2 separate regions of the Homo sapiens genome follow, and region 2 is linked to region 1. A link means that fine-mapping ties the variant in region 1 to the expression of a gene that starts in the linked region. Tissue or cell type: uterus. Region 1 holds a variant in brackets; the other region holds the start of a gene. All regions are shown on one strand. Distances are from middle to middle.

Region 1 (8,112 bases):
TATGTTTTACAGAGTAAGACTCTGGTGCTAATTCTGAATAACTGAGAACCTTATTCACCTCTCCAATTCTATGATCCAAATGCTTCCATTTCCGTCTACAGTCTAGTCCACAACCTCTTCTCAATGAGGACTGTGTCTGTCTCCTGTCTCGCAGCAGGGCTCCAGTATGAACCATGCTGTATAGAATGCATGAAACAGCAGCCTGTGGAGCAACTGAGAGCTGTCTCTCTCCTCCTTACATTTGCCGTTACAGAGCACATGAGTAGTAGCTGCATTAAAGCAGTGGGAAAATCCCTGACCCACTTTCCCACCTTTCCCTTACTTCTACATCACACAGCCGGAAACAAAGTTCGGGGAGAAGAGAGCATGAGGAATGTACTTCAAAAGCATGTCCACATCACACTTGCACAGCTTCTCTCCACATCTGTGCTTCTTCTGCTCTATTTTTTGATACGATAAGGAATGTACCATCAGCAGAAAATGGTGGGTGGTTTTAAATCTATCATCACCTTTTCACATAGGAGAGAACCAAGGTGCAAATGGCATTATACACATTGTCCCTAAGTTTGGGAAACTGGTGAGCAATAAAGTTGGATTAAGTAAATGAATGATTGGGTTGTGTCAACACCAAGCCCATGATTCTACTGTTCCTCAAGGAATGCTTCAGACCCTATGTTCACTCAAAAGTGGCATGTGTATTGAAGTTTAGCTTTTCTCCTTTTCTTCAGCAACCAACTAGACCCTCCCAATCAGCCCTGCCCCAGGTCAGGACATAGGACATGCAGGGGCATTTAGAGGGTATTAGAAAAAAGAATAATGATATTGGAAGTATGGGGAGGCTGATGAAGGGAAAATGAGTATAACATGTTTCTAGTACATTCTTCTTTCTCTTTTACCATATGCTCTTTCCTGCCACATAGTTCAGAAGGGTAGGATTTGCACGGAAACTGTCAAAAGTTGCTTCTGATTTGAGCCTAAGTGTTAAGGTCTATTTTGCCATTTCTAGCATAAACCAAACAGAGGTTTTAAAATGGCATGCTTGGGAAACCGTGGGCTTCTATGGTTGTATTGAAGGATCAATACAAGAGACTCAAATGCAATGCAAATAATTTCACAGCATTAAAGAAGGACAATGGCACAATGGATGAAAATTGGTAAATATCAGAAACCTGTACTCAAGTTAGAGAATATTTTATTAATTCAAGCAAGAGATACTAAGAACTTGGAATCAGCCAACGGTAATGTCAATGAAAAGGAAATAGCAAGTATGACAGGAACTTTGTGGGCAGAACCAACTAGAATTAGTATTTCATAAGTTGTGGAAGATTAAGGAAAATGAGGAGTTGGAAATGGCTTCAAGATTTCCAGCCAGGAGACTAGAAGGATGTTTATGGCATTAACTAAGAGAGGAGCTTGGTGAAAAGGAAAAGATGTGAAGAAATAATATTGTAGGTGGAGAAAATGTTGGGTTGGATTTATAATATGTTTCAAGTATAAATAAAAGCATGAACAAACGAACAATATGCTCCAAGTTTGTCAAGAAACTTAAAGATTGTCATTTTAATCTTTTTCTTGCTGAAATTTATAGTCTTACCAAAACCCAGTTCTTATTGGGAGATTAATGACTAAATATATATTAAACTTTCTTTCTCTAAAACTCTGTTCCTCTCTGTGGGAGATAACAACCAGCAAATTATGACCATGAATCAAGAAACCTGTAATCAAATAGTTCATAACTATGAACAGTTCATAAACAAATCACGGCTTCTTTGAAGCAGACTGTAGATTCACACTTCTCTAATAGCCTCTAATTTTGAGCAAATAAGTTAGTATGTATAATTTTCCACATTATTCAATAAACTTGTAATGATAAACCATTAGAATAATTATGTTCACCATTTTCATACCAACAAAATGTCCAAAAGATTAGGGCAGACACACTTGGAGAAGGAAGAATATTCCTTATATCATGTTCATATTTAAATTTCCTTTAAAAACTTACTTGTTGTACTCAAAATATATAACTTTACAAGATTGTATAATCTTTAAAAGTAAAATCCAGCATATTTTAGTGATCTGAAGCCATAGTCAATTTCAGACTTTCGCAACAATGATTATTCTGCTTTTGGATAAAGTGAGCAAGTATTTTCCTAATAAGCTAAAGTGACAGTTTAAGTGCTCCTCTTAGTAAGCTTCATGTTTAATTCCCATGAAAGGTTTATGGAAGGTTCTCCCCTATAAAACTAGTATATTATATTTAAATTTCAATTATATGACAAGTTACACTCATTTAACCTTTCATGCAAGATTTCTGCTCTCTGAGTTATAGTTTTTCTGCTTCTTCCAAGTGATAATAATTTCTTGTAAGCTTAAAGGCAAAAATCACTATTCACCCAAAGCCAAAAGAAAGAAAGGTAAAAGACCTGTAAAAGGCCTTTTTATTTCATAACCTAGATCAATCCATCATTCATGTATTCATTTATGTATTTGTGTACCAAGTATCTATTGAGTATCTCCATGTACAATTACTGTGACAGATAATTGCATTTACAAAGTTGACCAACATAGGCCCTCTCTTAAAGTTTAGTAAGGGATGTAGACATGTAAACTAACAAATATTGAATGATCACAGCAATGATGGAATGACTTACCAGGTGATGTGGAAACACAGAGGATGGAGGGCGATCTATACCAGAATGGAGGAAGTCAGAGAAAACTTTCAAAAAGGCTAAGCCTCAGGTGAGTCTTGAAGGATGAATGAAGCCCTTGTCTCTTTAACAACTATGCTTGAATAAAATATAAAGATGCCAAATGCTATGATTGAAAGGGCCCTGGAGACCCTTCCTTATAAACATAATCCCTGCTAACATGCCTCCTTGTAAGTCATTTTATATTAAGTCTCTGCCTGAGGAAGACCATTGTCAGATGAAAATTCTTTAACTAGAAAGGTTAACACAGGAATAAACAGCCATCCATATATTTACACATATACTTCATCTATTTCTCAGCAATGGGCTAGATGAAGAAATGGGATTCTAAGTAGAGATATTTGGCAGCAGGGAGCAAGAAGAGCCAAAATCCCATAGAATTCTATGAAGGGCAGATCCCAGTGGGGGTACAGCCATGGGGTTCAACAGACACTAGATTCTTGGCAGAGTTGTGACTACAGGTGGATGAGGAATAGAGCAGCCCTCAAGAGAAGAAGAGGGAGAAGTGGACCAACTCACTCATAATTTCTCCTCATGTTAAATCTTCCATTTCCCAGGGAGGGAGCAGAAAACACTTGATAGTTTAGATCTCCTCAAATTAGAAGGAAGCCAATCCAGTGAGCAAAAGCCAAAAGGCAAAGCTTGGGCTTCAGTTTTTGTTTGTAATTGAAAAGGCACCAAAAAATAGCCACTGAGCTGTCAAAAGGAATGTGAAGGTCAGAATCATGTTTAACTGCAAATACAAATCAAATATACAGAGTTGACTCCAAGCTGGCTGAGAAGATAGGAAACTGACACCTATTCAGCCCACATACATTGAAAAGCAAGCAGTGGTAGCCTTGCCTATAACAAAGATACTGTAAGAAATCCTGGCTTTTTAAAAAATTTTATTATTATTTTATTTTTTTAAAAAAACATGCTGAGAACCTGCACTCCCAGGAAAATGAAGTATATGTAAATTTCTCTATTCCTCCCTGGAATAAAACCCTGGAGATGATACACGGACAGATGATAGATAGATAAGAACTCTGAAAGATGCGGGGAAGAAGACAGACTAGCTAGAGACCTCAGGACCTCCTGGCAAAAAAACGGTGGTAAATCCCTTGAGTTTTCTTTTTGCTTCATATATCCCAGAGTAGAAGTTGAAGAAGCCAGCAACACAGAAAAAACAATGGGCACAGATCAGAATGAGCCCCAGGAAAAGCCTACTCTCTCTAACCAAAGGACCAGGAAAGAAGCTGTGATGGTTAACACTGAGTGTCAACTTGATTGGATTGAAGGATGCAATATTGATCCTGGGTGTCTGTTAGGGCGTTGCCAAAGGAGATTAACATTTGAGTCAGTGGGCTGGGGAAGGCAGATCCACCCTTAATCAGGTGGGCACCATCTAATCAGCCGCCAGTAAATACAAAGCTGGCAGAAAAACGTGAAGTGATGATACGGTCCTAGCCTCCCAATCTACATGTTTCTCCCATGCTGGATGCTTCCTGCCCTCGAACATCAGACTCCAAGTTCTTCAGTTTTGGGACTCGGACTGGCTCTCCTTGCTCCTCAGCTTGCAGACAGCATATTGTGGGACCTTGTGATTGTGTAAGTTCGTACTTAATGAATACTTAATAAACATGAATATATATAAAATAAACATTTATACATATATATACATATATATGTGTGTGTGTGTACATATATATATGTACGTATAGTCCGTACTGACTAATACGGAAGCCTAGCAAAAAGAAAATCTTTTAGAAAAAATTACCCCACTGCTCAAACACCCCAAATAAAATGGTGGACCCACCCTCATCCAGGCCAGCAAAGGCTAAATGAGGAGCCTATGCTTCCACCACCACCAAGCTATAAGGAGGCATCCCAACCTACCCCGACTCTCATCAGGGTGTTGTCAGGGAGAGCTGAATAAAGAGGCAGAACTTTTATCCCCACAGGGCAGTGCCAAGATTCACTCCCCATCATCACACCTGCTCACTCCCACCTTACCCTACTCTCTGTACTTTCCTCCTGA[T/G]GAGGAGCAGCAACCAGCAGGGAAACCTAAATTTCTACCTCTTCTCAGCAGCATTACAAGGAGTAAAGACAGCAGACACAAATTACCAATATCATGAATGAAACAGAGGATGTCACTATAGACTCTAAAGACAACAAAAGGGTTAGGAGGGTATACTACAGATGACTCTACACACATACATTTGAAAGCTTAGATAAAATGAACAATTCCTCAAAAAACAGAAACAATCACATCTCACCCAGCATGAAATAGATAATTTGAGTAATTCTATGGTTATTAAAGAATTTAAATTTGTAAGTTAAAATTTTCCAGAGGGGCTGAGAGCAGTGGCTCACACCTGTAATCCCAGCATTTTGGAGGGCCAAGGCTGGTGGATCACTTGAGGCCAGGAGTTCACGACTAGCCTGGCCATCATGGTGAAACCCCATCTCTACTAAAAATACAAAAATTAGCTGGGTGTGGTGGCAGGCACCCATAATCCCAGCTACTCAGGAGACTGAGGCAATAGACTCGCTAGGAGGCAGATGTTGCAGTGAGCCGAGATCGCACCATTGAACTCCAGCCTGGGCAACAGAGTGAGATTTCAAAAAAAAAAAAAAAAAAATCCAAAAGAAAAAATAAAACCAAATCTATGTAATCTCTCCCAGAGAAGGGAAGCAAAGAGAATGCTTCCTAATTCATTTTATGAAGCTGGTATTACCCTGATACCAAAATCAGACAAAAACATTAAAAAAGAGAGAAAACTACTGACCAATATTCCTCATAAATATTGATGCAAACATTATTAGGAAAATATTAGCCGATGGATTTTGGCCATATACAATGAGAATTATATACCATGACCAGGGAGTTTATTCCAGGAAAGCAAGGTTGGCTCACTAGTTGAAAATCAAAGTAACCACCATCTTAACAGATTAAAGAAGGAAATCACGTTTGTGTCAAGAAATACAGAAAAATTATTTAACAAAATTCAGCACACATTCATGAGAAAAACCCAGAAAAACTGTAATAGAGGAGAACTTTCTCAGCTTCATAAAGAGTATCTTCAAACAACCTACAGCTAACATTATACTGAATGCTTTCATTCTAAAATCAGCAACAAGGCTAAGATGTCCACTCTCTTCTTATTCAGTATAGCACTGGAAGTTCTAGCAAGAAAAGAAAGAACAAATAAAAGGAGTAGAAATAAAAGTCCTATAGATAGGAAAGGAGGAAGTCCAACTGCCCCTATTTGCAGGTAACATGAATATCTGCATGAAAGTTCCAAGGAATATATAAAAATACTTTTAGAACTAATAAAGTGAGTTCAGCAGGGTCCCACAATACAAGATAAAATATAAAAATCAGACTTTATATATTAAAAAACCACATAATGAACCATAGACTTAAATGTAAAACTATAAAAATGTTAGAAAAACACAGGAGACAATCTTTGAGATCTAGGGCTAAGCAAAGAGTGTTTAGATTTAACACCAAAAGCATGGTCCATTAAAAAAAACTGATAAACTGTACTTGATCAAAATGAAAAACTTTTTTTTCTGCAAAAACCTCTCTTAAGGTGATTAAAAAACAAGCTTCAAGCTGAAAGAAAAATTGCAAACCACATATCTAGCAAGATACTAGTATCTAGAATAGATAAAGATTTCTCAAATCTCAATAGTAAAAAAAAAAATCCATTAAAAATTGGGCAAAACACAGAAGAGATTTGACCAGAAAGGATATACAGATACAAATAAGCACATGAAAAGATGTCAAAACCATTAGCCATTAAGGAAATTAAAATTGCACTGAAATATCATTACATAACTATCAGAATGGCTAAAATAAAAAATAGTGACAACACAAAATTCAGAAAAGATAGAGAAACTGAATGACTCATTGCTGGCAGGAATGTAAAGTGGTACAATCACTCTAGAAAACAGTTTTGTAGTTTCTAAAAAACTAAAAATGTAATTTTCATATGATCCAGTAATTTCACTCCTAAGCATTTATTCCAGATAAATAAAAACTTAAGTTCACATGAAAACCCACACATGAACATTCATAACAGCTGTATCCATGATAGCCAAAATTGGAAGCAATCTAGATGTCCTTCAACAAATGAATGGTTGAAAAACTGTGGTATATTCATACGAAGGAAAACTATTCAGATACATTCAACAACCTGAATAAATTTCTAGATACTTATGCTGAGTGAAAAAGCCAATTCTAAGGTTATAATCAGTTTAATTCCATTTATATAGGATTTTTGACAGGACAAAATTATAGACATGAAAACAAATTAGTGATTGCCAGGAGGTAAGGAGGAGGTGAGAGTGAGAGGGAAGTGAGCATGTCTGTAAAAGAGCAATAGGAGGGATCCTTGTGGTGATGAAGACATCCTGTATCTTGACTATATCAATGTCAATCTCATGCCTGTGGTACTATAGTTTTGCAAGATGTTGCCATTGGGGAAAACTGGGTAAAGGCTAAAGATGATCCCTCTGTATTATTTCTTACAACTTCGTGCTAATCTACAATTATCTCAAAATAGAAAATTTAATTAAAAAGTCAAAACAAAAGTGTGCTGTTTCTCTGCCTAAGGGGACTGGAGAAATTACACGGGGGCCCAGAAAATAAGAAAGCAAGAGCCCACTCAATCCTGGCTAAGGAATTAGAAACAAAGAAGAAACTAGGAAGCAAGACAAGATTTCCTTCTTATGACTCGGTAGAGCTGACAGTTGAGCCCGACGTGGAAGGTTAGGTGGTTGGGTTATGGTCAACTGCCATTTGCCATATGCTCACTGTATTAGTCAGGGTTTTGTACAAAACCAGCAAGATGTGTACATAGACAGAGACATTTATTTTAAGGAGGTGTGTGTGTGTGTGTGTGTGTGTGTGTGTGCATTCAAGCAAGTCAAGTTTTAAAAACTAGGAAAAAAAACCATGACTCACCTGGTGGGAAAAGATAGTTATAACCATCAGACAAGGCATCCTATGCTTCCATGCTGTCTTTAACACTAGCAGAAAAAGTAACTTAAAAACTCTGCTGCAAGATGACTGGCTGTTTTCTAAACTATCTGAAGTTCTCTCAGGCCATCTGTGGGATAACTCCATTTTATTTTCTCTTCTATAAATATTTTAGGTGTAATCTCACATGCCACAATTTGTTTGTCACATGTGTCACCTGGGTATGATGGTTTGATTCATAAATTTCTCTTATTCTCTGCTAATTTTCCTCTCTCTCCTGTTCACCCCCAAATCTCAAGCTTCTCTTTTAACTCATAAGACATTTTAAAGATCCATGATCTAAGCCAGAGAGGCTGGTCTAATTGAACAGCATTGTCAAAAAAAGGGCTAATATTATATCTCCAAAAAATTACATAGTTTTTATTATTAGAATGC
Region 2 (8,112 bases), 240 kb before region 1:
AGTATACTGGACAATGGCCCTTCACACCCTGACTGGAACATGGCTGGACAGTGGCCCTCCATACCATAACTGGTCCCACCTTAATGCTCTCAGCTACCATGCTCTATTTCTCTGCTTTAATCACTCTTTTATTCTCCTAAATGATCATTTCATTGTTTCTCCTCTCTCATCAAACCTACAACACCTCCTCACCACGGTCACCTTGCTTCCTGTTTAAACCAGCAGAATTGAAGGAATCCAAAGAGAGCTTCTCCAAACTCCTGAAACCACATCTACCTACCGACCTGCTTCTTCACTTTTCTTCTGTTACTACATCATGTGTTAGTATGATAACATATAACATAAAAATATTTCTCAGCCAGAATTCCACCATTTCCCATTGGTAGCTGAGAATATATTTAACAACTTGAAGCTATTATGTATTCAATATTACTTTCATGTGAATTTTGCCCTCTGTCAATTATAAGCATCTTATATGATCTATAATCCATAGGTAGTTGGAACTGTTATTTAATTCAGGTGACAGTGATTTGGGCAAAAGTCTTTAATAATGCTTTGACATAACCCTTTGGCTCTTTCTGTGACTTAAACCTTACACCCTAGACTGCAGGCATAGTTTTAAACATGAGGGCTTTCATGTTTAGCAAGAAGCTACACAGTGTGTATAAAGGTGGAGGAGTTGTGATCAGAAAAATGATGTCACGATTAAATTATGTCTCCTCTCAGTGAGCCTGTTTTCCCACTTATAATATAGGAAAATTGGACCAGAACTAGTGTTGTCTTAGCTATTGCTTGTTTTTGTTCTGCTTCTTCAAATAAATGCACCTGAAACCACTGTATCTAACATGGATAAAGGTGTAGCTGCTCTGGTTGGAGCTGGGCAGAAGACCTTCACCTTAACTCTATTCTGTTCTGGGATAATTTTGAAACACAGAGTTCTCTTTATTTGTACACTGGGCCCTCCCTATCAGTGGGTACCACATCTGTGGGTTCAATCAACCACAGATTGAAAATATTTGAAAAAAAAATTGCATCTGTACTGAAAATGTAAAGACTTGTTTTTATTGTCACTATTCCCTAAACAATAAATACGGTATAACAACTATATAATATTACATTGTATTAGGCATTATAACTAATCTAGAGATGACTCAAAGTACACGGGAGGATGTGTATAGGTTATATGCAAATACCTTGCCATTTCACATTAGGGATTTGAGCATGTACAGGTTTTGGTATCTGCGCAGGTCCTGGAATGGATCCCCTACAGATAATAAATTTTAGGATCTACTGCCTAAGGACTATTATTTTTCTCTCTTTAGGGACTAAGCAGGAAGGATCAAACTGGCCTGCCCTTGGCAAGCTCTGGTGCTCACCATCATGTCTAGGAGGCTGGGCCTCACTGGGCTCACTCACCTCACTGGGCTCACTCACTCACTTTCCGTGCCTCCGGGAAAGGATGCTCAGAATCCCAGCTGCAGCCCAGCAGGCCCACCCCTGCTCTGATCCTCTGTGTAGCTGAAATCGCAAAGCAAAAGTTAGTTTTATTTTCTTGAAGTGCAAGTTCAAATTATGTATTTCCTCCCATAGTCTCTATACAAGCTAGATGTGCATAAAAGTCTTACATAAAATGATGGCTAAACCTTGGAGGATTTTATTCTTTAATTAAATGTAACTTATAGGACAGAGTATGGCATAGCTGCACATGGCTACAATTTTCTACATGGTTTTGTATGCTTGGATTCCTGATCTCCTGGTCTATGTTTTACCCAGGTTTTTTAGCCTCACCCCAGAGCTTTCCACCTCTAGAAATATGCTGCACCGTCACCATGCTTGCTGGAAAGTTTCTTGTTTAAAAATTCTGCAATCAGCACAAGTTACATCTATTGATTCTCATATAAAAATAGTGATATTTCTCATTCCTTTTAAAATGGTTTCATAAGAAATAGCTTATGCACACTTGCAAGTATGTTCATTTTCAAAGTTCTGTTTTACTTTTTATAATTAGTTTTTAAAGATAGCTTTTAAAGAGAGTTGATTAAACAAGACTTTAATGATTAGAAACTTACCAGGGCTTTTCTGAAAACTTCTATCTTTATATTAGAAACATAAAATAAGTCTTCATGAGGCTGTTTGATCTGGATCCCTTAGATTAGTTCCCCTTTCTTGATAATTTGCAAGAGTCACGTTCTGGAAAGCAGCTATGAGGAAGCAGAGCTGTAGGCAGAACAGACTTGGTCCTTGTTCAGTTTGCCGGAGGATATACTTGTTGAGAACGTATTGCATAAAACAATGATATCACAACCAATTAAAATGCAATAGACTGGACTGCTGCTGAGGAAATGTTTATGAAACAGATTTTCCCCCCAACTTTCTACTATGAAAATGTTTGAACATACAGAAAATTTGAAAGAATAGTGAAAAGAATACCCTTCTCCTAGGTAGCATCTCTTTGTGTACTTACTTCTAAGAAAATAAATAAAACTCAAAAAGTATGTGACAGGTACACTTTATCTCTCTTCCAGCATTCCACATTCAATGTGGAGCAAATCCTATGGGGTGTATCTTCAAAATATACCCAGCATTTGACTACCTGACACCACTACCACCTGGTCCAAGCCTTCCTCATCTCTTTCCTGGATTATAGGAATAGCTTCCTTGCCAGGTTCCCTCTTGCTGTTATTGATCTCTTCAGGGACTTCTCAAAAAAGCAGCCGGAATGACCCTGTTAAAATGTAAACATCATATCAATGTTGTGTCCAACCCTGTCTGTGGCTTTCCATCTGACAAGGCCTCACACAATCTGGTACCCTGCTAATCCTCTGATATTAGGTCTTTTATTTTTCCCTCTAAATCTGGCCCAGTCCCCTGACCTCCTCGTTGCTTCCTGAAGGAAGCACCTGCCCCTGTTTCCAGCCACTACACTTGTTTTCCCTTCCTGGAATGTCCCTGGATACCAGCAGGGCTCACTCTTTCACTTTGTTGAGATCTTTTGTCAAATGTCACCTTCTCAGCAAGGCACTGTTTGGCCAGCCTACTGAAAACTTTATCCCACCTCCCAACATTTCCTATCCCTCTTCTGGCTTCATTTTTTATCTACTTAGGACTTACAAGCAGCAAATATTTTATATATTTTAACCTATTTATTTTCTGTCCAACCCATTATTCTATGCACTCCATAAGGACAAATTTCTTTACATTTTGTTCATTATCTGGCATTGCCTAGCACATAATAGCTTCTTAACAAAAATCTGTTAAATGAGTAACACATTTTCTTAGAGTAGTTAAAAGTAATGAATATTTGAAAGGCCTTGAGCTACCAGTGTCTGTGGGTCAAAGGACTTCCTCATTTTCCTAGGGAAATTATTTCGCTTGGCTGGAACTCCAGGTAGAAATCTGGGGAAATCTCTTTACTGTGCTACCCGTTAGGCCAGAATGAACTCCAGCTTCTATCATCTGGTCACAAATAATGAAAAGGAAGTTTTTTTTTCAAAAGGAAAGCAAAACAAATGAATATATTTTCTCCTGCAGTTTTTGTAGATACCCTAGTTACAGACTACACCTTACCAACTTTCTGCTGTGTCACTCACAGTCACCGAATGAGGCCATTTCTCACACAGCGTTTTCCCTGGAGGAGGTCCCTTTTGACTCTAGGTCCCCAGTGTCTTAAGACCTTTGCTGTTTTCACCCTCTGCCTTTGCTGGGAAGCTGCTCTTCTGGCAAGGGGCTTACACTTTCCACAGACACAGTCTGCTCGGGTGAGATGCAATACCTTCTTTTAGCTGGTGTCCTCTTTCAGAAATTTAACCAGCCAGTCTCTCTCTGGAAATGCTAAAGATGGAAAAAACAGACTCCAGATTTTTTCTTTCGTTTTAGCCAGTACAATTTTAAGAGCATCTGGATGTATGCTGTTGGAACTAAGTAACAATCAAAATGACCATGATTAGTGTGGACAAATTTTGTGATTGCCTTGACTTAAGTCTTGGCTTTCTAGGGGCCCTCAGTGTCCTGTTTTGAAACAATTGTGAAGACAAATATTATCTTTAGCAACGTTGGTTATTGACAAAGGAGTTGCAGGTTGGCATCCTCAACACTTCAGTTTTCTCTCTTTGATGCTCAGCAAGAATTTCCAAGTCAGCAAACTCTCAGGGACAAGCCCACCCCATCTTTGAGAGACCCTCAGCAACACCGCTGATATCCATGCCCTAGGGAGGTGTTCTGCTCTGCAGGATTCTTAGAACTGATGTAGGGGAAACACACTTCAGAATCTGGCTGTAGCCCAGGAGAGCTACCCACACCCTCCTTGCATAGTCTGGCAGACAGAAGCCACACAAGCAAGTTAGTTTCGTTTTCCTGAAGAACACTTTGCATTTTTTTTCTTAGTTTTCAACCAGATTGCTGGATAAGATGTATGTGAATGAAATACTTTAATAGAATAATATTTAGCCTCTGCAGAGTATTAACTTTGATAAAATGTAAAAGTTTTAATAACATCTTACGTTATGAAGACAGAATTTTGTGTAATTACACAAGATCACACGTTCCTTTAGAATCTTCAGTGCTTAAATTCCTGACCCTGTTTGCATCGTTTCTCTATCCTCTTTTCCAAAGCCTGCCTGCCACAATCAGAAACCCTCCCACTATCCTAATTACACTTAATGGTATGTTTCTTTTTAGAAGAGCACTTACAAAGTTATTATCAGTTAAATATACTGACATGTATTTAATCCATTGATTTTTCTAATTACTCTAGTATTTTTATAAGTAATCGTTTATGTACAAACATATATTTATATAAAAAGTACAGCTGAAGTTTTAAAAAATAGCTGTCGCCTCAAAAGCATAACAAATAAAGGTTTAATGATTCAGTTTACTTACCAGGATTTTCCTGAAAATGTCATCGTTTTATATCAGAAACTTGAAACAGGCCATTTGAACTTTTGCTGTCTCATTCCTCTTCTGATGGCTAGGAGACATGAAGTGTAAGGATCCTTTTTTAAAAACTGAGGCATTAAATTGTGAAGTCTTCTGTTCTCCCAGTACTCTGACTTTCTGAGGGTGTGTCAGAGTGCCAGTTGAGAAGCAGGAGGAAGTTGAAGTATAGACAGTTTCAGTTTTGCTTTAGAACATTCTTTTTTCTTGAGTTTAGAAGGATCTGAAATGTTTTTTAATCAATAACATTACCAAAAATATCAATAAATTTGAATCACTGCTTAGAAACTGTTTACCAGGCAGATTTTTAAGTTATAAGAGTTAAGGAATAAGGAAACAACAAACAAACAAACAAAAAAACCCAGTGACCCAAAAAACTACCTACAGGACAAAGAGAATGGAAATACCAGGGAGAAAATTAATATGTCAGTGCAATCTAAGTTCCTGTTACTGGTTGAATTGTGTCCCCCAAACATTCATATGTTAAAGTCCTAATCCTCACTCCCTCCAAATGTAACTGTATTTGGAGATAAGGTCTTTCAGGAGATAATTAAGTTAAAATGAGGTCATTAGAGTGTCTGTAATTGAATCTGACTGTGTCCTTGTAAGAAGACGAGATTGGGACACAGACACATACAGAGGGAAGACCATGTGAAGACACAAAGAAAAGATGGCCATCTACAAGCCAAGGAGAGAGACATCAGAAGAAACCAACCCTGATAATGTCAGAGACATTCGAACCAGAGTGACTCCATTTTGAATGAGGGCTACGAAAATGAGGCTGAGACTTGCTGGGCTGCCTTCTCAGAAAGGTAGGCATTCCTAGCCTCTAGATGTTTATGATTAAGGGAGCAAATTAATAATATTTACTAAGCAGACCGTGACTTGGGAGTGTCCAGATATCCCAATATCTGGAGAACAGAGGCATTCTTAATTTTGCTTTAAAGAAAATAATATTGATTCTTGCAAAATACACTAATTAAGAAAATTAATTCTTTATCAGAAACCCTTGTAGCAAAACACATCTCTCCATATATACAAGCATTGTACCTAGGGTGGATGTGTTCCTCCTCTTACTTTCGGGAACGTCCTACTCTGTCTGTGGAGTAGCTGTCCTTTTACCACTGTACTTTCTTAATAAACTTGCTTTTACTTTGCACTGTGGACTCGCCCTGAATTCTTTCTTGCATGAGCTCCAAGAACCCTCTCTAGGGGTCTGGATTGGAACCCTGGTCCTGTAACATTTCTGGCAACCATGAGGGACCGATACTGAAGAACCTCCCCACCAACCCAAAGGAAATGGACTATAGCACTGATTGGATGACTTTGGGTAAGTGGTGGGGTACCCGGGTAAAGAATGGGATTGGGTTAGAGGCCCAACTTAGGGGAATTAGAGTCTCTCCGAAGACAGGGTGAATTAGAGACCCCTGTTAATAAAAGGCAAAGATGCTTGACTGACCTCGGATTAGAGGACCAACTTAAAAGGTTTAGAGTTCCTTCTAAGATTTAGGGGGTTAGAGGGCCCTCTCAGTAAAGTCCCTCTCTGCTAAAAAAGGGTTTGGCACTGCAGGCTATGCACTTTGTATTAATCTGCCTTGTCCTCCTTGCTGCATAAATCAATTTCTTGGTTGCTGTCTGTGTTTCACTGTCATTTTCGGGAGACTTTATCTAAATGGTCTTAGGGATTTTAACTTACTCTTTTCCTATGTGCCTCCTGATTTCCATGTGTCTGCTCTTGAAACATTGGGAACAAAAAGCATTGACGGCTCCGTCTTTAAAATTGCTGATTGAGATTTGGTATTCAACAGCTATGAGCAATAAAATTAGATTATGTTTTGTTGCTGCTATGCCGACTAGGTGTGATCGAGAAGCACTAGGATGGAAATCAGGGGACTCTGATGTTTTGTTTCACTTTGCACACTAAAAACACTTCTTTCCTTTCTTGCATTCAGGCAAACCGGCTTTGCTTGTTCAATCCACACTGTCTCTATTGCCCAGAACCTGCTTGCTCTGGTCATTCCCATCTAAATCCTCTTCATTTCCCTTGCCTTATTCAACATTTTTGTCAAAGTCCATGTTGTGGTTTATCTAAGATTCATGACTCAGCTCACTTATGTTATTTGGATAATGTGAATCATGTTTGATGAGAGGAAAAGAGGAAAAAAAGCTAGACATACTAGATGATCCTTTAATGCAAGCAACCTTGGTTCAGCAGGCAGTTTTGGGTGGAGCAGAACCTCCTTCTGTCAGCTCTGAAGGTTCAGATGTGTCTGTCCTTTCTCCCTCTATCCCCTTGGAGAACCCTTTGTCCCATCCTCCTTACCCATCTAGCCCCACTCTATACCCACCACTCCCTGAGGAACTTAGCCTGGTGAGTACTACCCCTAGTGGAGCCTCCTATCAACCTCCAAAGGGAAACCTTTGTCCACTTAGAGAGGTGGCAAATGGGGAAGAAGGCACTGTGAGAGTACATGTTCCCTTTTTTTTTTTTTGTCTGATTTGACTCTATGTAAAGAGAAGTTTGGTGATTTCTCTGAAGACCCAGGAAGATTCATAGATTAATTTGAGAAATTAATTCTGACCTATAGTTAACTTGGCAGGATCTCCATGTTTTGTTGTCTCTGTGTTGTACAGTGGAAGAGAAACAATGCATTTTGGGGACAGCTAGGGCTCATGCAGATGAGGCATTGGCTAACAACCCAAACCATAATACATATCAGGCAGGAGGTAGAGCAGTTCCAGATCAAGATCCAGAGTGGAACTATCAAAGGGGCAGTGACAACTTGGGGAGGAGCGATCATATGGTCACTTGTTTGTTGGAAGGGATGAAGAAATGTATGAAAAAGCCTGTTAACTATGAAAAATTAAGGAAGTTTCTCAGGACAAAGATGAGAATCCAGCTTTGTTTCAAGGGCATTTAGTTGAGGCAATTAGGAAATATACTAACACTGATCCTGCTTCAAGGGAAGGACAAACCCTTTTGAGAGTACATTTTATAACCCAGTCTGCCCTTGATATCCATAGGAAACTAGAAAAAGCAGCTATGGGTCCCCAAACTCCCATATGGAACAGCTTTTGGATATGGTATTTTTAGTTTTCAATAACAGGGACAAAGCAGAGGAAGCAGAAGGAGTAAGAAGGACCTCCCACAAGGTGCAGCTCTTGGCTGCAGACTTAAGC

The links. PIP is the estimated chance that this variant, and not a neighbour inherited with it, causes the effect.
Region 2: SAMD9L starts here. The variant in region 1 is fine-mapped to the expression of SAMD9L in uterus (GTEx, PIP 0.91).

The regions. Positions count from the first base shown.
Region 1 is chr7:93,383,321-93,391,432 of GRCh38, forward strand. No RefSeq gene overlaps it. Among named protein-coding and RNA genes, the nearest start is that of MIR653, 95 kb to the right of the region's middle. The variant T/G (reference allele first, on the strand shown) is at 4,729.
Region 2 is chr7:93,143,316-93,151,427 of GRCh38, forward strand. It overlaps SAMD9L (sterile alpha motif domain containing 9 like), which reads right to left and starts at 5,070. Exons shown (of 5, transcript NM_152703.5): 1 at 4,879-5,070; 2 at 3,568-3,831; 3 at 2,070-2,725; 4 at 1,417-1,518. RefSeq lists an enhancer at 4,270-4,369.